3 linked regions of the Homo sapiens genome follow. The protein of the gene in region 3 purifies or fractionates together with the protein of the main gene of each other region. This does not show direct contact. Each region holds a gene or a part of one and is shown on either strand. Other genes may lie near its edges.

Region 1 (8,340 bases), on a different chromosome or scaffold from region 3:
AGCAGAAATTAAAACATGGTACACTTAGCACTGTCAACAGAACTCTGTGAAATGATGAAAATGTTCTCTATCTGCACTGTCCCATATATCCACATGTGGCCACTGAGCATTTGAAATGTGCCCAGTCCAAGTGAGGAACTGAATTTTGTTTCATTTAATCTTAATTAATTTAAATTTAATTAGCCACTTGTGGGTAGTGACTACCCTATTTGATACCACAGTGTAGACACTCGATAATTGTTGAATAAGTAAACAGATAAATGAATAAATGGATATAAGATATGTATTGAGTCTGAAGAAAATATTGGAGCATGTCTTATGTGGCACATGCCAGAAAAATAGTTGATTAAAACACACATCTCGGCCGGGCGCAGTGACTCACGCCTGTAATCCCAGCACTTTGGGAGGCCGAGGCGGGTGGATCATGAGGTCAGGAGATCAAGACCATCCTGGCTAACACGGTGAAACCCCGTCTCTACTAAAAATACAAAAAATTAGCTGGGCCTGGTGGCGGGTGCCTGTAGTCCCAGCTACTTGGGAGGCTGAGGCAGGAGAATGGCGTGAACCCGGGAGGCGGAGCTTGCAGTGAGCCGAGATCGCACCACTGCACTCCAGCCTGGACGACAGAGCAAGACTCTGTCTCAAAAAAAAAAAAAAAAAAAAAAAAAAACCACACATCTAACACAAGTATTATTCTCAAAAACAGCTCTGCTGTGCATGTGTAGGGTCAGGGGATATGTGGTAAATCTCTGCACCTTCAGCTCAAATGAGCTGTAAAACTAAAATGGCTCTAAAAAAAGTGTATTAAAAAAAACACAGTTTTGGATTCTATCCTTACTGACACCCCATCTCTCTAAATTTACTTTTTTTGTATCAAATAAATTCTAGTTTTGATGCAAACTTCCTACTCTCTCTTTCCAGAAGCAATATGGATACATGTTCACAATAAAGAAAAAAAATGTAAGTCTTTAGTTCTGGAACTACTGAGAGAAAACCCCCTGACAGGCTTCTAAAGTCCTGGTTAATATCCCCTGAAAAGTGATATGTTAAATTCCACCAATGCCTATAAAAAGTTCACATTGAAATATCTGTTTTCAATGCAAAAGTAATTAAAATATTTTAAACATTAACTGCTTTCATATATATTAAAATACAAAGATGCAATGTGCAAGAGAGACTATCATTTCTAATTAAAGCAATGCCTTATTTGTCAAGACCATAAAACAATGAATGGGCCTAGGACAGTGGCTCACATCTGTAATCCCAGCACTTTGCGAGGCCAAGGCAGGTGGATTGCTTGAGCCTAGGAGTTCATGACTACGCTTGGCAACATAGGGAGACACTGTCTCTACAAAAAAAAAAAAAAAAGATATATAAAATAAAATAAAGAATGCATGTAGTGTTCCTCTAGGCACATTTTCCTGATCAAAGGTTTGCAAACTTGCTCCCATGAAGACACGTGTAAGTGGGTTCCTGGAAGACAGCACACTTTCTGAGGGACACCACAAAGTACGGATATAATTTCACTGTGTGAATTAGGAACAATTTAAGTAGAAAAAATATGTCTATATATGAATATAATATAAAAAAATCACAACTACAGGCGCTTGTGTTAAAACTTTTTTAAGCTGTTAAATTAAGGTAGCAAGTGTTTCTACCAATTCCTAGTTACTTGCTTAATCATTTCATCAAAATTTTAAATAGAGATTATAACGCCCATTATCTTCAGTGTATATTTTCAGGCAGAGAAGAGAATTGGAAAACAGAAAAATCAAGATTATTTCAAATAATAGATTGACATTTGATTAGTCAATCAATGCACCTGACATTCCTAGATGCTCTACTCTTCTTATGCAAATGACAAGACTAAAAGACAGCTATTTTTATTCTCACTTTATATATAAAGAATATGAAATTCCAGGATATTAAGAAACCTGCCCAAGATTACCCAACTAGCAAATGATGGGCTGATTAACTCTAATATTAACATTCTTTCCCTTACCTCACAATACCTCCTTAAGTAAATGTAACCAAATCTTAAAGCAGTTTTTCTCAACCCAGGTGGTATATTAGATTCACCTTGAGAAGAGTCCCAATTATTTGCATTTTTCTAAAGGTCCCCAAGTGATTTAGATACACAAAGGTTGAAAACCTCTGATTTAAAATTATCATTAATGGCCAGGCATGGTGGCTCACGCCTGTAATCCCAGCACTTTGAGAGGCTGAGGTGGGTGGATCACATGAGGCCAGGAGTTTGAGACCAGCTTGGCAAACATGGTGAAACCCTGTCTCTACTAAAAATACAAAAATTAGCCGGGCATGGTGGTGCGCACCTGTAATCCCAGCTACTCGGGAGGCTAAGGCATGAGAATCGCTTGAACCTGGGAGGTGGAGGTTGAAGTGAGCTGAGATCATGCCACTGCACTCCAGCCTGGGCAACAGAGTGAGACTCTGTCTCAAAAAAAAAAAAAAAAAAAAAAAGATTATCATTTCATTAACATAAATTTTTAGACTATGTAATAAAACAGTTTTAACAACATATGTAGAACTGTTTACCACTATAGAAACTGTCTGTAGAAATTTTGAGTTATTGAGTCTATCTTTATTAAATTTCCTCTCTCCTGCTTCACTGTCAAGATGCCAGATATAACTGATTATTGTCATAATGTGCCCACATCTAACAACACACCCCACCCACCATTCCAATTTGCTGTTATCTACTGTGTTCTGAGACAAGTGAGAACCATGCAAATGAGAACAGTGTGTAAAATAAAAGCTAACAGGCTTTATGTGAGAGCCTATCTTATCAGTAAAGTACAGGTGCTTTTAGCACATGAACTTAGTGATATCAAATTTGGTTGCTCAAGAACTTCTTCTGTTTAATTTCTGATTCTTAGCTTTGTTCCTAATTCTTAACCTTGTACATAGTTCCTGATTCTTCACTCCTGATTCTATACAACCGTACCTAAACTATTATCTCACTGGGAAATAATTTTTCCTTTATGCCTGCCTCTCTAACTAGATTACGAACTCCTTGAGTTCAGGGGCTATGTTTAGTCATCTTTGTACTCCAGTGCTATCATAGAGTCATCGACACAGCAAACCCTCAATAAATGTTTGCCTCTTAAATGACTCATGGAGGCTGCCCTGAGTGAAGTTTAATGATAAATGGTCATTTGTGGCAATATATACAGAACCTTTCATTAAGTAACAATGAGCTCTGAGCCACAGCATTCCAGGGTGTTAGGACTTTGGTGAGGTCGCCACAGTGGCACAGTCTATGTGTTCCTCAGCTCTATTGCTAACTTGTTTCAATTAATTCAACCTACCAAGTATTTATTGGCTCTGACCACTTGGGATACAGTGATAGACAAGAATTATCAGATCACTCTGCCACCCACATACATTTAAATGCTTTTACCTCTCTCCATCCTCTTGCAACCACAACCATCTCTCTATTGAGGTACAGTCATTGACTTACAATGGTACAACTTATGATTTTTCAGCTTTATGATGGTGCAAAAGTGATGCACATTCAGTAGAAAGTATACCGTGAGTATCCACACAACCATTCTGTTTTTCACTTTCAGTACAGTATTCAATAAATTACATGAGATATTCAATACTTTATTATAAAATATGCCTTCTGTTAGGTGGTTTTGCACAACAGTAGGCTAATGTAAATGTTCTGAGCACCTTTAAAGTAGGCTAGGCTAAGCTATGACATTTGTTAGGTTAGGTGTATTAAATGCATTTTCAACTTATGATATTTCAATTTACATAACCCATCATAAGTCAAGGAGCATCTCTAGTTCAATTACTCTTCCTGCTTTCTTTTTCATTCCTCTCCAATTCTTTTTCCACAATCCCACCAAAGTGAGCTTTCTTTAAGAAGCAGTTCTGGCTGGGCACGATGGCTCATGCCTGTAACCCCAGCACTTTGAGAGGCCGAGGCAGGTGGACTACTTGAGGCCAGGGATTCGAGACCAGCCTGGCCAACATGGTGAAACCCCGTCTCTACTAAAAAATACAAAAACTAGCTGGGCATGGTGCCACATGCCTGTAATCCCAGCTACTTGGGAGGCTGAGGCAGGAGAATTGCTTGAACCTGGGAGGCGGAGGTTGTAGTGAGCCGAGATAGCGCCACTGCACTCCGGCCTGGGTGACAGAGTGAGACTCTGTTTCAAAAAAAAAAAAAATTAAAAAGCAGTTCCAACCTTTTCACTCTTCAAAACCTTTCAAAGCCTTCCTTCTGCCCTGAGGGTAATGCCTAAACCCTCTAAAATAGCTTAACAGACTCAGCTTGATCTAGCTCTCCAGCCATACAGCTCACCATTCACTCCCTAATTGTCTTTAGCCATATTAACTAACCTACATGGAAGTCCATAATTAGACCATGTCGTCTTCAAGTGAGAAACTATGCGCAGGTCTGTCAAGAAAATTCCATAAGCATTAAACAAACTCAAATTATGGATTTAGGTCTCCAAATTTAGTACATTTCTTAAGGGCAGTTGTTGATTACTATAATCATCCAAACAGTGTTTCCTCTTCTGGAAAGGAAAAGAAAGTCGAGGCTGGCATGGTACTCATGCCTGCAATCCCAACACTCTGGGAGGCCAAAGCAGGAGGATCGCTTGAGCCCAGGTGTTCAAGACCAGCCTGGGCAACATAGTGAGACCTCCATCTCTATTTCAGTAACGTTTAAAAAGAAAAAAAAAAAAGAAAAGCAAGCCAAAAATACAAATGAATTGGGCTGCTAGAAGAAGGCAAGGCTGAAAACATAAGCTTCTTGAGAAAATGTACCAAAGTCTCTGTATCTGGTGTCTGATGCCTATTATCGTCTGCACATAGTGGCTGCTCAAATTTTTGTTGAATGAATGAATGAATGATGAATGAATGAATGAATGACCAAAGTGAATGGGAAATGAGAAAATCTGGGGACAGAATCCAGAAATAAAAAGGAGGGTAGGCATGTGTCCCAATTCTGACCAAAAAAGATTCCAGGAAATGGTTGTTAGAGGTTTCTGGCAAGGCTCTTCTCCATTCTTAGAAGAGAGTCATGGAAAGCCTTTCTGTCTCCTACGGGACATAAGTGAATATATATGCTGCCCTGGTTGCTACTGTCTGCTGTTTTTCTTCTCTTTTTTTTTTTTTCTTTGAGACAGGGTCTCACTCTGTCCCCCAGGCTGGAGTACAATGGCGTGATCCCAGCTCACTGCATTCTCTACCTCCCCAGGCTCCAGTGATCCTCCCACTTCAGCCTCCTGGGAAGCAAGGACTACAGGTGCATGCTACCATGCCTGGCTAATTTTTATATTTTTTTGTAGAGACAGAGTTTCACCATGTTGCACAGGTTGGTCTCGAACTCTTGAGCTCGTGCAATCCACCTGCCTCCGCCTCCCAAAGTGCTGAGATTACAGGCGTGAGCCACCATGCCCGGCAGTCTGCTGTTTTTCAACCATTAAGTAAACTGACACTGTGGACAACAGACAGGAGAGACAGAGCCTCTCATCCTGTCAGCCAGTGTTGAACTTGTAGTCCTTCTACCCCTGGACTTCCAGGTATGTGAGCATTCTTATTGTTTAAGTCAATGTGGGCTGTTATTTGCAGCCCAAAGCCTCTTAACTAATACATATCTGAGAAGCAATAAAAAGAAAATTTAGGCCAGGCATGGTGGCTCACGCCTGTAATTCCAGCACTTTGGGAGGCCAACGTGGGTAGACCACAAGGTCAGGAGATCGAGACCATCCTGGCTAACACAGTGAAACCCCATCTCTATTAAAAATACAAAAAATTAGCCAGGCATGGTGGCATGTGCCTGCAGTCCCAGCTACTCAGGAGGCTGAGGCAGGAGAATCACTTGAACCCGGGAGGCAGAGGATGCAGTGAGCTGAGACAGCGCCACTGCACTCCAGCCTGGGCAACAGAGCAAGACTCTGTCTCAAAAAAAAAAAAAAAAAGAAAATGTAAATATTTTAAAAATGAGGCCAGGCACAGTGGCTCACATCTGTAATCCCAGCATTTTGAGATGCCAAGGCAGGAGGATTGCTTGAACCCAGGAATTGAAGGTTATAGTGAGCTATGATCGCACCACTGTACTCCAGCCTGGGTGACAGAGTGAGACTCTGTCTCTAAAGAAAAAAATTTTTTAATAAGAAAATCATGTTGAAGATAATGAACATAACATGCCATTATTTAATTTTGTAGCTTCATCAAAAACTAATCTCAAAAAAATAGCAAAATGAATCACTGCTATAAAGAAATATAGACCTTCTGTGCAACTGGTATAGCTAAAAGTATATAAAATAATTCAGATGTACTATCTGTGAAAAAAGATGTCAAACTTTCACTGGATAGAACAGTAGATTAAACACTACAGAAAAAAATACTAACAAATTTGAAAGCAGCAAAAAAATATACGAATGAAACACAGAGAGAAAAAAGACTGGAAAAAAAATGAACATCAGTGAGCTGTGGGAAAACATCACATAGTTCAATATACATGTTACTGGAGTCCCCAGAGGAAAAGCAGGGGAGAACAACAACAACAAAAATCTGAAGAAGTAATGGACAAAATGTTTCCAAATTTGATTAAAACTACAAATCCATAGATCCAAGAATCAACAAATCACAAGCACAAGAATCAGGTAAGCAGGGCACGGTGACCCATGCCAGTAATCCCAGCACTTTGGGAGGCCGAGGCAGGAGGATAGGTTGAGCTCAGCAGTTTGAGACCAGCTTGAGCAACACTGCGAGACCTCACTTCTACTAAAAATCAAAAAAATTAGCCAGGTATGATGGCATATGCCTGTAGTCCCAGTTACTCGGGAGGCTGAGGCAGGAAGATAGCTTGAGCCCAGGAGATTGAGGCTGCAGCGGGCTATGATTGCACCATTGCACTCCAACCTGGGAGATGCGCGAGATAGTCTCAAAAAAAAAAAAAAACAAATAAAATCATGTAGAAAACAACATCAAAGCACATCACAATCAAATTGCTTAAAACCAGTGATAAACAGAAAATTCTAAAAGTATTCAGAGGAAAAAGATACATTCTATACAGAGAGAACAAAGATTAAAAGGACAGCAGACATCTCAGAAAGAATGCAAGCCAAAAGACAGTGAAGCATCATCTTTAAAGTAATGAAAGGAAAAAAAATGATCAACCTAGAGTTCTATACCCAATGAACATTTCTTTCAAAAGGAAAGCAAAATAGGGACTTTTTCAGTCATATAAAAGTTGAAAGAATTTATCACCGCATACTTGCTCTACTAGAAATGCTAGAGAATGTTCTTGAGGTAAAAGCAAATATGGAAATATGGATCCAGATGGAAATATGGATCTACACAAAGGAATGAAGCAGACCAGAAATGGTAAATATAGACAAAAGTGACTCCATCTTGGATGTTAATCTGCCACATTGACTTCTGACTAGCCTCAGTCCCGTAAATGCCTCTTGATTCCTGCTTTATTTACTACTGTAAGAACATGTCAACCTTGGTGTTGGCACACAAATGACAGGATATGGCACATGCAGCATTCTTACCTGTTCTGGAGGGCTGTCTTTAATTGTCTTGCACAGGGTGCATATACCATCTCCCTGTACTATATAAGCCCTGGGTCTGGGGAGTAACAGTATGGAGATCTATCTGTCTTGCAGCTACCCAGGGCCACGCTTCTGTCTGCAAATTCCCTCAATAAATCAATGAATACCAACGAACAATTTGCCTGCCTCCTCCTTTGGTTTCTCCGTCCCTTCAGCATTCAAGGGTCACTTTGCTTATATGACCCTTTCAGGCAACAATATGGTTAAATACATAAGCCTTTTTTTCTTATATTGAAAATCTCTTCAAAAGACAATTGACTAACACAAAAATAATAACAATATATTGTGGAGCTTATAACATGTAGAAATAAAATACATGACAGTAGCAGAAAGACCAAGGGGAAGGGAGGAATGAAAGTATACTGTTGTTAGGTTCTTGTTCTAGATGTGAAGAGGAGTAATATTACTTGAAGGAAGATTGTGATAATTAAAGATGACACTATAAACTTTAAAGTAACCACTAAAAAAAGAAGAAGTTATATCTAATAAGCCAACATGAGAGATAAAATGGAAACATAAAAACTGTGCTCAACTGAAAAGAAGAGGGAAAAAGAGGAAAAAGAACAAGAACAAATGTGACAAATGAAAAACACATAGCAAGATTAAAACTAAACATACTAAATAATCAGATTAAATATAAATGGCCCGAACACCCCAATTAACTGCAGAGATAGTCAGATTGGATAAAAAAACAAGACCCAACCAAACACTGACTACAAGAAGCCCACTTATATAA
Region 2 (8,340 bases), on a different chromosome or scaffold from region 3:
GTCAGAGTTAAAGCTTCTGAACTTTCCTAATCTATAAGATGAGGCCTCTATTGACTAGAATGTTTGTGAAGATTAAAAGAGAAAGTAAATTAGGACAAAATGGACTTCTGAATACATAATTTCTCAGTGTTAGGTCCCTCTCTGCATTCTCCCTGAAGGCTTCCTACTCTTTTCACCCAAGATGAATTCACTGTATTTTTATTTGTATTTATAAAATTGGCTTATTAGTTTTATTTCAAAATAGAGTGAAAGATGCAGTTAGCCAACTCAGATAAAGAGTAGGAGTCAAAATAATGTAAGCTTAGATTTAGATATAGCCAATTCCGAGACAGTCAAATAATAGATTTTTACTCTGTTGCTTAATTACAGGGGTTGAAACAAGAATGAAATTCAGCTCTCACTTTAGTTTATTCCCTGGGAGCATGAGTGTATTGTGTCCTGCCCCAAATATTTGGGAGAAAAAAAATAAGGGCACACTAGAAGTTAAACAAGTAAAAGTTCACATAAATTAAATGACATTACCTATCAGCAGTAGCTATCTGCATCTGTGTCTCTAACAACTATAAGATCTGGCCTTTTTCTTTTCTTTTTTTTTTTTTTTAGACAGAGTCTAGCTCTGTCGCTAGGCTGGAGTGCAGTGGCACAATCTCTGGTCACTGCAACCTCCGCCTCCTGGGTTCAAGTGATTCTCCTGCCTCAGCCTCCCAAGTAGCTGGGACTACATGCGCGTGCCGCCACACCTGGCTAAATTTTTTTTGTATTTTTAGTAGAGACAGGGTTTCACCATGTTAGCAGATCTGGCCATTTTCTAAGAGCTAATTGCTTTACACCTATTGTACCATCTAATCTTCCCAGCAACTCACAGAAGCAGGTGGTGGTATCCTCATTTTTGGATGAGGATGATACTAAGTTAAGAAATGCACTGAGTGTTGAACAGTTAGTAGTAGGGCTAAGATTTGGTTTCAGATTTTATTTCCAACTAGAAAGACCATTTTAACACTGTTTTGGTTATTGTTTGTAGAGAGCTTTCTAAATAAGTGGGTACCTTTATTATGATTAAGAAAGTAATTGACTATTTGGTAGGATTTCATACAGAATTATTGATAAGCACAATTCTCAGTTAAGGTGACTTTCACATCTTTCTCATCAGTGTTAAGATGAATGACTAATGTGGTGTACTAAAAGTTCAGGTAGAATAGGATAGGAATGCTAGGATTTTGGTACTCTTCACCTTCACTGATAAGGAAGGAAGGAAATTATATTTACATTTTAGTAAATGGTAAATGTGAAGTAATCTGGGCGTTGGAAAGAACAATGGCTAAGAAGTAGAGGATCTAGGTTCTAGGACTTGTCTGAATGACTGTGGTCAAGCTCCTTAATCTCTGAGCCTCATTTTTATATACTAAATGGAAGTAATAATATCTGCTGTCTCTGGGTTTGTTTGTGAGGGTCAGGTGAGACAGTGTGTTAAACATAAGGTGGTATTATTCAGAAATTTGGACAAAATTTGTTGTATTCCTGGTAAACTACAGTATATCTAGAGAGATAAATAGTTAAGACATTTCTATAAATGACATAGTATAGTGCATTTCTTAACCTAACATTTGATTTTTATCCCATTAAATATACATTATAGAAATTAATACAGAAATTTGAATCAAAGTATAATGAATCCTTAAATGTATGATACACTTGATGTATTGTATGTCTACCCTGTGGAAAGAAGTGCCTGCTAACTTCAGTTAGTCTGCACACCTAACAGTGTTAGGGTATCAAGAGTGAATAATATTTTCACTCCATATATATATACACACACATACATACACGTATTCCATATCCTTTGTTATATTATGATGCTTTAACTGTAGAGTTCATTGGTCAAATAGTATGCTTAGGGAAATACGTTTACTTTGAGTAATAGTTTTCACCAGAAGATTGTAGGTTATATGTGAGAGTAACTTTTAGGAGGCTTTTATTATTTAAATTACATATAACATATAGTAGATTAGTCTTTTAAATTGTTCTTAATCATATAGTCTTTGAAACTTTTTCATCAATGCCCTATTTTTTTATTAATTAAATTGCTATAAGTCTCTTCTTCCTCATCTATAAAACTAGGGGGTTGGATTAGATGATCCCTAAGCTCTTTCCAGCTCCAAGATTTAAGATTTTAACTTTGAACTGCCATACCAAAACAACTCAAGGATCAACCTGCAATCAGAGTAGTCGCTTGTTCCACAGGTGATTAGATCATTATAGCCCACCAAACGAAAATAGAGAAGCAGAATAGATTGACTGTCCTAGGCTCGTATGATCATTATTAATTTTTTTTTCAATTACAAAAGACATGACTTCTGCAGAAAGTTTGAATAGAGATGAAGGAAACAGTGAATGGTTATTGTATGCCTCTCTTCCTAGCCTCATGCTGCCCCCATATAAATAAGTTCAAGTATTAGATCCTTTCTGACCTTTCTTAGTATTTTTCATGTAAATACATCTCTGTGTGTGTGTGTGTATGTGTGTGTGTACAGATTTTCATTCAACAGCAGAGTGTCTACTATGTGCCCGGTATTATTTTAAGCAGCAGGGATATGTGGTGAACAATATGTTGCATATGTGGAAGATGAAATCTCTGTTACAGAGCTTACATTTCTAGGAGGGGAATGGACAAGTAAATAAGAATTTCACATAATGGTAGTTGCTAACACAAGGTATTGCTGGTAACTTTTGGGGGCTGAGGTGAAGAGATATGCAATATTACATAAAGGTAGGCAGACCTCTCTGAGGAAGGATGTTTGAACTGAGATATGAATGACTTGAGGGAACTAGCCTTTGATCAGGAGAAGAGCATTCTGGCAGAAGTATCAGCAAGTGCAGAATTCCTGAGGCAAAAACAGGCTTGTGTGTTGAAGGACCAAAAAGAATGGCCAGTGTTGCTGGGACATAATGAATGAAGGGGAAAATGGCATACCATGAAGTTAAAGGTAGGTATGGGCCAGATCATAAAGACCTAAACGCCTTGAGGGCCGTTGAAAGGAGTCAGAATTTTAAGTGATATTATAGCATACATATTCTGCAACTTGTTTTTTGTATCATGGGTAACTTTTCCATATACTAATTTTAAGTACAGAGGTATAATTTTAAAATCTCATTTTCCACTAGTCCCTTTCTCATCCTATAAAAATACTAAAATCTCTACCATTCTAAAAATGTTGCTCTTCTGTGCTCTTTTCTTCTCTAGTTGTTACTCTTCTCAAACTTTCTGCCTCTATTTTCTTCCCTGCCATTCACTCAACCCTGTCTAGTTTAGCTTTCTTTACCAGCCATTCCTCTGCTACCTCTCTTCTTCAAGTCACCAGTTACTCAATTTTCAAATCCTCATCTCTTTGGTACATTTAGTGCATTGACAACTCCCTTCTTCATGAAACTTTCTCCTTTCTAAGCTTCTGTATCACTACTCTCTCCTAGTTTTCATACTTCTGTCTGCCTGTTTTAAATATTGGTGGTCTCCACAACTTGATCTTTGGCTGTCTCCTTTTGCACACATTTCTCTAGGAAGTTTCATTCACTCTCCTTGTCATTATCTTCCAGTTTTGTATTTTTACCTTGGATTTCTCCTGAGATCTAGGTATACCTATTTGTTTACTAGACATCTTTTGGGTATACTAGAAGTATGTACCAATACCATCTGACATTTTCTTTATATTTACCTTGTTTTTGCTCCTCCTCCCTGTTTAGTTAATGGTGCTTCCATCCACCCAGACAGAGCTCAAGAGAGAAACCTTGGATTTACCTAGATTCTTTCCTTTCCCTCACCTTCCTACAAACCCCCAACCTAATTGGATACCAAGTCCTGTAGTTCTGTTTCCTCTATATCTTTTGAATCAATCTTTTTCTGTCCCTCGCCACTGTTCTAGGTTAGTCTCTTGCCTGAACTCTTTCAGTAACCTAAAATGGTGTCCCTGCTTCTAGGCTGTAGCTCTTCCAGTCCATTTGTCAGTACAGAGCAGCGTTTCTAAAGCACAAATGTGATCATTCCCTCTTGCTTAAAATTACACAATGGCTTTCTCTTAGTTATTGGCCAAAATCTAAACTCGTTGGCTAAACTGTTCATGATCTGACTATGCTTGCCCTTTCTACCAGTCTCCCTTATCACACTTACTTTCTAGAAAACTGAACTGTTTGCTGTTTTCTGAGTAAGTCATGAAATTTGTGCTTTTCTACCTTTGCACAGGTTATCCCCTTTTTTGGGAATGTTTCTTTATTTTGTAACTGTGATTCATTCTTAAACATGTCATCTCCAGATATCTCTGACTCTCCATCTTTTTACCCTAGAGTTTGGCCCATCATTTTGTGCTCAAATAAGACATTAATTGCATCCTTCATAGTATTTAGGACAAAGTATTATATTTGTGTGTCCACCATGCCAAATAGATGACAGCTCCTTTCTTTAGAGTAATATTTCTATAGGAGTAGAATACAGTGTTAAAGAGTACAAACTTTTTACTCAGTTCTGATTTTGGCTCTACTTTTTAAAGTAGACTATACTAGAGATATAATTGCCTCATACTAAAAATGAGATTGATAATACTATCTGAGGATGACTTGTATTAAGTGAGATAATGCATCTAAACTAGTGTTGTCTGGCACATGGAAATCTCTTAGTAGATGGAAGTCACATTAGTATCTTCAGCACAGATTCATTATTCAGCAAATATCTGTTGAATAAATGATCACATATCAGGTACTCAGGATATATGCACTGTTAACTGGTAGTATCTAACTCGGTAATTGGTTATCTACTTAGTATCTGGTAAGGATATATAAAAGAAATCTTATTTCTGTAGAAGCCTCCACACCACTAATAACAGTAATAGGAAATGGCTAAGAAACATACAGGATATTATGTGGTTACACACTTTTATAAAAGGGGAGAATTCACTGTAAATTCTCAAATGATCAGTCTTACATGATCAAAAGTTCTAAATTCAACATTTGGATTTTATTCTGTAGGTTGAGTAATGGCAATTCATGGAGGTTATAAAGCAGAGGACAAGCATGATCGAATTGGTCCTTTAAGAAGGATAAACAGGTGATGGTTTAGACAGTGATAGGGTTGGAGGGAAGGAGTAGGGTGATGACACCTGAAGGAGGTGGATAAGTGGGAATGGAGTTGGGCCTATGAATGAAATTCATTTGAAGAAAGACATATGGTTTTGAGTATAGAGAATAAGAGACAGATAGGAGTCAAAGATTATTCTGGCCATGAGCCTGGATGACTGAGAGAATGATAATATCATTGGAGGAATTAGAGATGTGGAAGAGGGATCTTGTTTGGGGAAAAGTGGTCTAGGGAAAATGAGTTTACTTGGGGCTTATTATTTGAGTTGTTCAAGTGAAAAATTCTTGTAGGCTCTTGTAGATACAGAATTGGAGTAAAGATGAGAGACTGGTGCTGAATGTGAGTACTAGTACTGTTTACTAAGGGAATACTTTTAAATGTTTGTTTTTTTAATGTGTTGTTGTTTTCTTTAAAATCAAGACCAGTTGTTACAAAGAAGTAACATGTTTTAATGTCATTGTCGTTTAAAAAATATTTTTACTTCTTAAAGTAGACTAGCCAAAAGGTCCCGAACTTGGTATCTAAAATGAATATGGGGAATAAGGATTTTGAAAAATAGCTGTTGCTCTCATTCTTTTTTTTTTTTTTTCAATATGAGACAGGGTCTTGCTGTGTCACCCAGGTTGGATTGCAGTGGTGTGATCATGGCTTACTGCAGCCTCAACCTCCCAGGACTCAAGCAATCCTCACAGCTCAGCCTCCTGAGTAGCTGGGACTATAGATCTGCATCACCACATCTGGCAAATTTTTTGTATTTTTTGTTGAGACAGGATCTCACTTTGTTGTCCAGGCTGGTCTTGAACTCCTGGGCTCAAGCGATCCTGTCACCTTCGCCTCCCAAAGTGCTGAGATTACAGGTGTCAGCCATAGCAGCCGGCCTATTCTCTCATTCTTGAAGAATGAAAGCTCCATGTTATGTTTGAAGTTTTACGAGTTGACTGCTTTGTAAGAAAAAAAAAAAAATCCTAGATCTATGAGAATATTCCCGTGAATGCCAGGGATTTGCATATACCAGTTTGATGATTTCAGAAATTAAAGTCTACTCTATGAAAATGTTTTTCATTTGAAAATTTTCCCTAGAATGATTTAAATTAAAAATAATGAGGAAAAACTTGTGAATCTCTACAGATATATCCACGGAGACTAGTTTGAGGATACACTGGCATAGCTATCAGAGAACCTGGGCTTCAATATTGGCCCTTCCACTTACTAGCTTTTTTTCACTAAGGCAAGTTGCTTAGCCATTGTAAACCTCAATATCCTCATATGAAAAATAGGTTAAATGAGAATGAAGTAATGTGTGTAAAGTAAAACTCATACATGGCACATAGTAATAATAATAACTAACCCTTACGTAGCATTAACTGTGTTCCAGGCACTGAGCTAAACAATTATTATTTAATCCTTATGAGGTAGGTACTTATCCCATTTTATAAGTAAATGGAGACACTGAGAAGTAACTCGCCCAGGGTCATGTAGCTAGTAAGTGAAGCGGCAGTATTTGAACTCAGACAGTGGCTCTTAACTGTTCTTCTAGATTGCCTTTTAATATGTATAAATAAGGACTTGATATATGTTCTCTACTATTATTGTCTTTATTTTCAGAAAACTGTGACAAGTATAGATTCATAAAATCCTAGAAGTGGCAGGAATAATCTATGAAACCTAACAACTTTAGGAAAAGTTGTATTCATTCAACAATTATGAATCACATGGAACTATTTATCCTTAAGGTTTTAGATTAATTAAGGGGGAGGGGGCATCTGCTATGAAGCAAACTATAATATATAATACATAGAACAATAATACAATATTAAAACTATTTCTAATTTTTAAAATATTTGCAGTCTCAAAACTGGTAGGGAAAGTGATCTTTTGATTTGTATTACCAATTACAACTTGTTCTTTCTGTTGTTCATTTTTAGGATATAAAGAACTTTTCATACATTTGATCTCCCTTTTTTGCTCCTTTTGAATAAACTTCATATTTTCCCTTTATACTCATATATGTTTTAATGGAAATGATGCATTTGATAATTTCAGGGACACTAAAATAATCATGAAAAATTATTTTCATGATTCCTAAGAGTTGGGAAGTTCTTAAAGCTTGCTTCTCCTTGCTCATTGATTATTCAATATTAACTTTCCCTATCTGAAAAATATGTTATATAAATGGAAATTTATAGCCTCAGTGCAAAGATAATTATATAGTTTGTAAGTTGTTTAAAAGAGAAGGACACCTTAAACTGTTGGAACTCTCCAAAATGTATTTGTTAATAAATAAGTACTACTAACTTGTTTGTGAAAATTTTATTACTAATGATATAATCTAAATTCGAATGAAGATATATTCTAGGGGTGGGGAGAATATCAGGAAAAATAGCTAATGCATGCTGGGCTTAATACCTAGGTGATGGGTTGATAGGTGCAGCAAACTGCCATGGCACGCGTTTACCTATGTAACAAACCTGCACATCCTGCACATGTATCCCAGAACTTAAAATAACATTTTAAAAAAGATGTATTTTAATCTTGTATTGATTATACATTAAAAATTGCTGCCATTTAATATGGGAACATAGCTTAATACTAATTGTGGAAATTGTTATAACAGTTATTTGCTTATAACTTTGGATTTTGATTTTCATATTTAGATTTATTTTTAACATAGATTTTATTTATTTTTTATTTTTTTGGAGACAGGATCTTGTTCTCTCGCCCAGGCTGGAGTGCAGTGGTGCAATATCGGCTCACTGCAGCCTCCATCTCCTAGGTTCAAGTGATTTTCCTGCCTCCACCTCCCAAGTATCTGGGATTACAGGCACATGGCACCACGCCCGGCTAATTTTTGTATTTTTTAGTAGAGATGAGGTTTCACCATGTTGGCCAGGCTGGTCTTAAACTCCTGACCTCAGGTAATCCACCTGCCTCGGCCTCTCAAAGTGCTGGGGTTACAGGTGTGCGCCACCGTGCCCTGCCCTAACATAGATTTTAAAGTGAACCAGTAACAGTATAGTTGAGCAGTAACCTTTGGATTTCACTGTTTTAATAATCTATGCTTTAAACTGCATCAGTTTATATATTATATATTATATATATAGTTAATAATATTCTTTATTAACAATATTGCCAAAATTTTTTTAAACAAGAGTTTACCAGGAAGAAAATAAGTTAGGTTTTAATAATTTATTTTGCATGTTTAATATCATTATTTAAAA
Region 3 (5,570 bases):
CAGGCTGCCCATGTGTCCTCTGCCTCTCCCTGGGTGTCATAGTGCCACTTCTCCACAGCCTCTAAAAGCAAGAGACTTCTTGGGACCATGGGGGAAGTGGAGGAGGAGAGAGATCGGGCTGGGTTTGAGTTTCAGCTCCCGCTCTCATCTCAAGCAGTCTCTCCCGTCCTCGGTTGTGAGTGCAACGTGGTGATATTAGTAATAGCAACGCAACCTCTAGCATGTTCTGACTGTGCGCAGGTGCCGTTCTACACAGTTCACTCTTTTTGTTCCTGAAACAGCCCTATGAGATAGAAACCAATTTTTTTTTTTTTGAGACAGAGTCTCACTCTGTTGCCCAAGCTGGAGTGCAATGGTGTGAACTCAGCTCACTGCAACCTCCGCCTCCTGGGTTCAAATGATTCTTCTGCCTCAGCTTCCTGAGTAGCTGGGATTACAGGCACCTGCCACCACACCTGGCTAATTTTTGTATTTTTAGTAGAGATGGGGTTTCACCACGCTGGCCAGGCTGGTCTTAAACTCCCAACCTTAGGTGATCCACCCACTTCGGCCTTCCAAAGTGCTGGGATTACAGGTGTGAGCCACTGTGCCCACCCCCAATTTTTTTTTTTTTTTTTTGAGACAGAGTCTTGCTCTGTCACCCAGGCTGGAGTGCAGTGGAGTGATCTTGGTCACTGCAACCTCCACTTCCCAGGTTCAAGTGATTCTCCTGCCTCAGCCTCCCGAGTAGCTGGGATTACAGGCAAGCACCATCATGCCTGGCTAAGTTTTGTATTTTTGGTAGAGACAGGGTTTCACCATGTTGGCCAGGCTGGTCTCGAACTCCCAGCTTCAGGTGATCTGCCTGCCTCGGCCTCCCAAAGTGCTAGGATTACAGATGTGAGCCACCATGCCCAGCCAGAACAAATATTATCATCACCATTTCACAGATGGAGAAGCTGAGGTAGCAAGAGCCCAAGTCACTGCCCAAGGTCACACAGCAAGGAAGTGGAGGCCAGGCGTGGTGGCTCATGCCTGTAATCCCAGCACTTTGGGAGGCTGAGGTGGGAGGATCACCTGAGGTCAGGAGTTCAAGACCAGCCTGGCCAACATGATGAAACCCCCATCTCTTTTTTTTTTTTTTTTTTTTTTTTTTTTGAGACGGAGTCTCGCTCTTTCGCCCAGGCTGGACTGCAGTGGCGCTGTCTTGGCTCACTGCAAGCTCCGCCTCCCAGGTTCACGCCATTCTCCTGCCTCAGCCTCCCAAGTAGCTGGGACTACAGGTGCCCGCCACCAGGCCGGGCTAATTTTTTTTTTGTATTTTTAGTAGAGACGGGGTTTCACCATGTTAGCCAGGATGGTCTCGACCTCCTGACCTCATGATCCGCCCGCCTCGGCCTCCCAAAGTGCTGGGATTACAGGCGTGAGCCACCGTGCCCGGCCGAAACCCCCATCTCTACTAAAAATACAAAAATTAGCCGGGCATGGTGGCAGGAGCCTGTAATCCCAGCTACTTGGGAGGCTGAAGCAGGAGAATTGCTTGAACCTGGGAGGCGGAGGTTGCAGTGAGCTGAGATCATGCCCCTGTACTCCAGCCTGGGTAACAGAGTGAGACTGTCTCAAAAAAAAAAAAAAAAAGGATCAGGGGGAATTGGGGAGGCCAGCATTTGAAACCTGGCAGGCAGGTGCTGCCACTGTGGAGGGAGGCAGCAAGAGAAACCTGAGGGCCTAGGCAGGCCTAGTTCAAACTCTTGCCTGCCATTTATTTGCTGAGTGACCTGGGGCAAGTCTCCTCACCTCTTAGATCAGAGGTGAGGATTCAGGGAGCTGTGCCTGGCACCCCACTGGGGCCTGACATTTGTAACCTTGAACCCAGAGGCCAAGAAGTACCTCTGACTGCCCCTGGTCCTCAGCACCCATGTTGCCTCTTCCTCAGGACCTGTCTCTCCGCGTGACGGTGGCTGAGAGCAGCAGCGACGGCCGTGGGGACAACGTGGGCCATGTCATCATTGGGCCGTCAGCCAGTGGCATGGGAACCACACATTGGAACCAGATGTTGGCCACGCTGCGCAGGCCCGTGTCCATGTGGCACGCTGTCCGGCGAAACTAGCAACCAGGGCGGGCCAGTTGGGCAATGGAGCTGCTGGAGCCCGGTACCCACTCAGCTCTGTCTGATGCCCTCTCCATAGCCCAGCTGGAGCCGTGAACACTGGGGTCCCCTGGCAGAGTCCTCATGACCCATCCTGGTCTCTCTGTCCAGATTGCAGCAGAGGAGTGGGCGTGGCTCTGTGTCCAGGGCCCCAGGGTCTGCTCCTGCTGAGGACCAGCTGTGGCTGGGCCAGGACAGAGGACTCAACCCTGCTCCTCCCGGTAGGCCAGCTGCCGAGCTGGGCTATGTTCTGGAACCCAGTGAATCTTGGGGGCCAGGCACTGTGCTAGGCACCAGCAGGGGTAACACGAAGAAGACCCGGCCCTTAGGGCATCAGGAAGACTAGCTCCCCTGCCCCGGAGGATCTGCTCAGTGCTGATGGCAGCCCAGCTGTGTGGACTCAGGGGGCTCTGAGGGCTAGGGAAACAGGAAGGGCCTCTTTGACAAGGTAGGAGCTGTGCTTGGAGGGGCAGGAAAAGAACTGAGCATGTCGCAGGCAGCGGGCCCAGCCTGAGCAATGGCAGGATGTGAACTTCCCCATCGCAAATGCAGTTCTCAGCCCACTGCAGTGGATACAAGGAAGGGCCTTTCTCGGGGCCGGAGAAGAGACCAAGAGACCAGGCCCGGGCAGCAGCCTACCGGCCACGTGGAACACTGGCTCCGGAGTTATTCTCTGTCAAATCTACTCCCCGGACCTCAACCATGGCAAGAACCAGAGGTCCAAAGAGGCCCAGACCCAGGTCCTTGTGCTCAGTCCTGCGCAAACCAGGCCCAGACCCTGCAAGCATTTGTTGATGCCCTTGCAGGCCCACTGGGAGAAAGATGCCTCAGGCAGGTCTCAGCCTGGGGGTGGCAGGGGTGGGGCAGAGAGAATACTGACAGCAGAGGTCTTGGTGGGCTGCACGTGCCTGCGAAGATGTGGTGGACAAGGAGGCTCTCGGGCTGGGCCTTGGAGGGGTGGCAGCGGAAGGACAGCCCAGGTGGCTGAGGCCTGATGGGAAGCCGGGGAAGGCCAGGGTGGAAGGGCGGCTTGAGGGACGCCAGGAGAAGACTGAATGCCAGGCTAGGAAGGAGGCGGCTCTCGATCACGGGGTGGGTGCCCCCGACACCGGGTCTCCTAGCTTGAGTTCCCTAGAAGCGAAATCTGAGAGGGGGATTCTGGGGCAAGTAGTTTCTTGCGGGTGAGTGTTCTCAGAGAAACTTACCAGATCAAGAAAGGGAGCTCAGGCTGGATGGAGGAAGCCACGCAAGTGTGGCTTCAAGATCCATCGCCTTGGCCTGATCGCTGTGGGGGCAGGGGCCTGGAGTACGAGGGGCACCCTGGGGGCTCCCACCCAGAAGCAGAGGGGCTGGGCTGTTGCACCTCTACTGGCATCAGTCTTTGGTTACCCCCCAGCCCCAGTAGGAGGAGAGCAGGCAGAGCTTGTCATCCCCAGCCTGGTGTCCCGCAGTCCCAGGAAGCCGCTTCTTGCCTTCATGGCTGAGTGCTGGGAAGGGCTGAGCTCACCCAGGCCAGCAGGTGGGGTATCATCTGCTCGGTGGGGCCACCCACAGGTGACAGCATGGACCCTCAGGCTGGCTGCCCCTGTTCCTTGGTCCATAACTGGTGAGCTATGGAGACCCAGGCCAACAAATTATCCCCAGTGATATGGGGGGAGGAGGGGCTAGAACAAGGGCCCAGGGGACTGGAGGCAGGATGGTGGCTTTCCCTACCTGACACAGCCATGGCCCAGCCCCAAGGCCAGGCTGTCTACCCTATGGCCACAGCAGGAGGTCAGCCCAGGGCCAGGAGACACATGGCTGGACAAGGCTTTGCAGCCTGGGAGACCCCGACTTTCTCTAACCCAGTGGCTGTGCGGTGCAGGCCACTGACTCCCCCCCTGCCCTCTCCCCTCTCTCCCTCCCCCTAACTGCATGACATGTTAACTGTGTGCCCAGGACAGCCGTGGTGGGGACCGGGTATGCCAACTGGAATGATTCTAGAACCAAAATAAAGTTGGGGCAGGAAGAGGGGGCTTCCAGGGAGCCCTGCTCGGCCCTGAATCACCTTCGTCTCTTCTCTAGGAATCAGGGACTCAGGCCTCCTATGTGTTACTGTGCACCCTCCTTCCTGCTACAGAGTGCCCAGAGGGGAGTGAGGCCTCTCTCTGCTGGGGAGACCATCACAGGGACCAATGCATGCTGGGCATGGTGGCTCACACCTGTAATTTAAGCACTTTAGGAGGCTGAGGTGGGCAGATCACTTGAGGTCAGGAGTTCAAGACCAGCCTGGCCAACACGGCGAAACCGCATCTCTACTAAAAATACAAAAATTAGCCAGGTGTGGTGGCATGTGCCTGTAATCTCAGCTACTCGGGAGGCTGAGGCAGGAGAATCGCTTGAACCTGGGAGGCAGGGGCTCCAGTGAGCTGAAATCGCGCCACTGCACTCAAGCCTGGGCGACAGAGCAAGACTCAAAAAAAGGTCTCAAAAAAAAAAGGAAGGACCAATGCATCAGACTCCTTGGGAAGCTCAGAGGAGGGGCCACTGAGCCAGCTCTGGCAGGAGAGAGTAGGATGATGGGGAGTATCAAGGAAGGCTTCCTGGTGGTGACACCCAGCTGAGGCTTCAGGGCCAGAAGGAGGAGATCAGGTAGACACGGCAGGAGAAGCATTCCTAGCAGGGAACCCCATATACAAAAGGGCACAAGGGGGCGAAAACTTGGCCAGTGTATCCATTTGGCCAGAATAAAGTGGGGGATGGTGGAGGGAGTGAGCAGGGTGGGAAGAAGAGAGCCAAGGGGGAGTTCTGAAGGGTAGAAGGGCCTTCCACATTCAGCGAGTGCTGGTGTTCAGCCTGCAACACTTCAAAGTAAGTGCTGCTGCTATCCCCTTTTTTGCAGATGTGGAAAAGAGCTCAGAGAGGTTAGGTAACTAGCCCAAGGCCACACAGCCAGAAAGTCACAGAGCTGGGACTCAAGCTCGGCCTGTCTTTGCTACAGAGCCAGTGCTCTGGATCACTCAGCAACAACGCCCCCTTCCCCAGCTCCTTGAATGTAAGGCTGAGGGCATAAGAGAAACCCCCGCTGGGTCCCAGGCTGCTGCCTTCCCCTCCCCACCCCTGGAAGATCAGAAGCGTGGGACATCAAGCATGGATAAGGATGAGCTGATGGAGAATTCCCAGCAGCTCCTGGGAGGCCTGTCCACCACAGGGACTGACTCCGAAGAGCTTCTGAGGCAACCAATGAGACGGGCTGTGGCAGGAGCCGGTAAGAGGGGCAGAGACCAGGGAGGGCTTCCTGGAGGAGGTAGAAGCATGAGAGCTGGCTTTGCAGCAGGGGGACTGTACACATGGAGGAGGGAGAGGGGTCTCAAACTGCCTGAGCAAAGGTGTCACAGTGTCTGGGGAGACACAGCTGGGCTGAGGCTTGAGAGGCCAGGTGGGGTTGGGCTGTGGAGGCTGT

What was found. The genes of interacting proteins can lie anywhere in the genome.
Region 1: the proteins of SYT12 (region 3) and ENTPD7 purify together in Homo sapiens (affinity purification with mass spectrometry; 2 studies listed by BioGRID and IntAct, with this or other methods). This does not show direct contact.
Region 2: the proteins of SYT12 (region 3) and LEMD3 purify together in Homo sapiens (affinity purification with mass spectrometry; 2 studies listed by BioGRID and IntAct, with this or other methods). This does not show direct contact.

The regions. Positions count from the first base shown.
Region 1 is NC_000010.11:99,662,071-99,670,410, reverse strand, and holds part of ENTPD7 (ectonucleoside triphosphate diphosphohydrolase 7), read right to left. Parts: intron 1-8,340. UniProt on the Homo sapiens protein: Catalyzes the hydrolysis of nucleoside triphosphates and diphosphates in a calcium- or magnesium-dependent manner. Preferentially hydrolyzes nucleoside 5'-triphosphates, with substrate preference for UTP > GTP > CTP.
Region 2 is NC_000012.12:65,172,145-65,180,484, forward strand, and holds part of LEMD3 (inner nuclear membrane protein Man1), read left to right. Parts: intron 1-8,340.
Region 3 is NC_000011.10:67,046,669-67,052,238, forward strand, and holds the end of SYT12 (synaptotagmin-12), read left to right. Parts: intron 1-1,915; coding exon 1,916-2,089; 3' UTR 2,090-4,195; downstream 4,196-5,570. UniProt on the Homo sapiens protein: Synaptic vesicle phosphoprotein that enhances spontaneous neurotransmitter release but does not effect induced neurotransmitter release. Unlike other synaptotagmins, it does not bind Ca(2+) or phospholipids.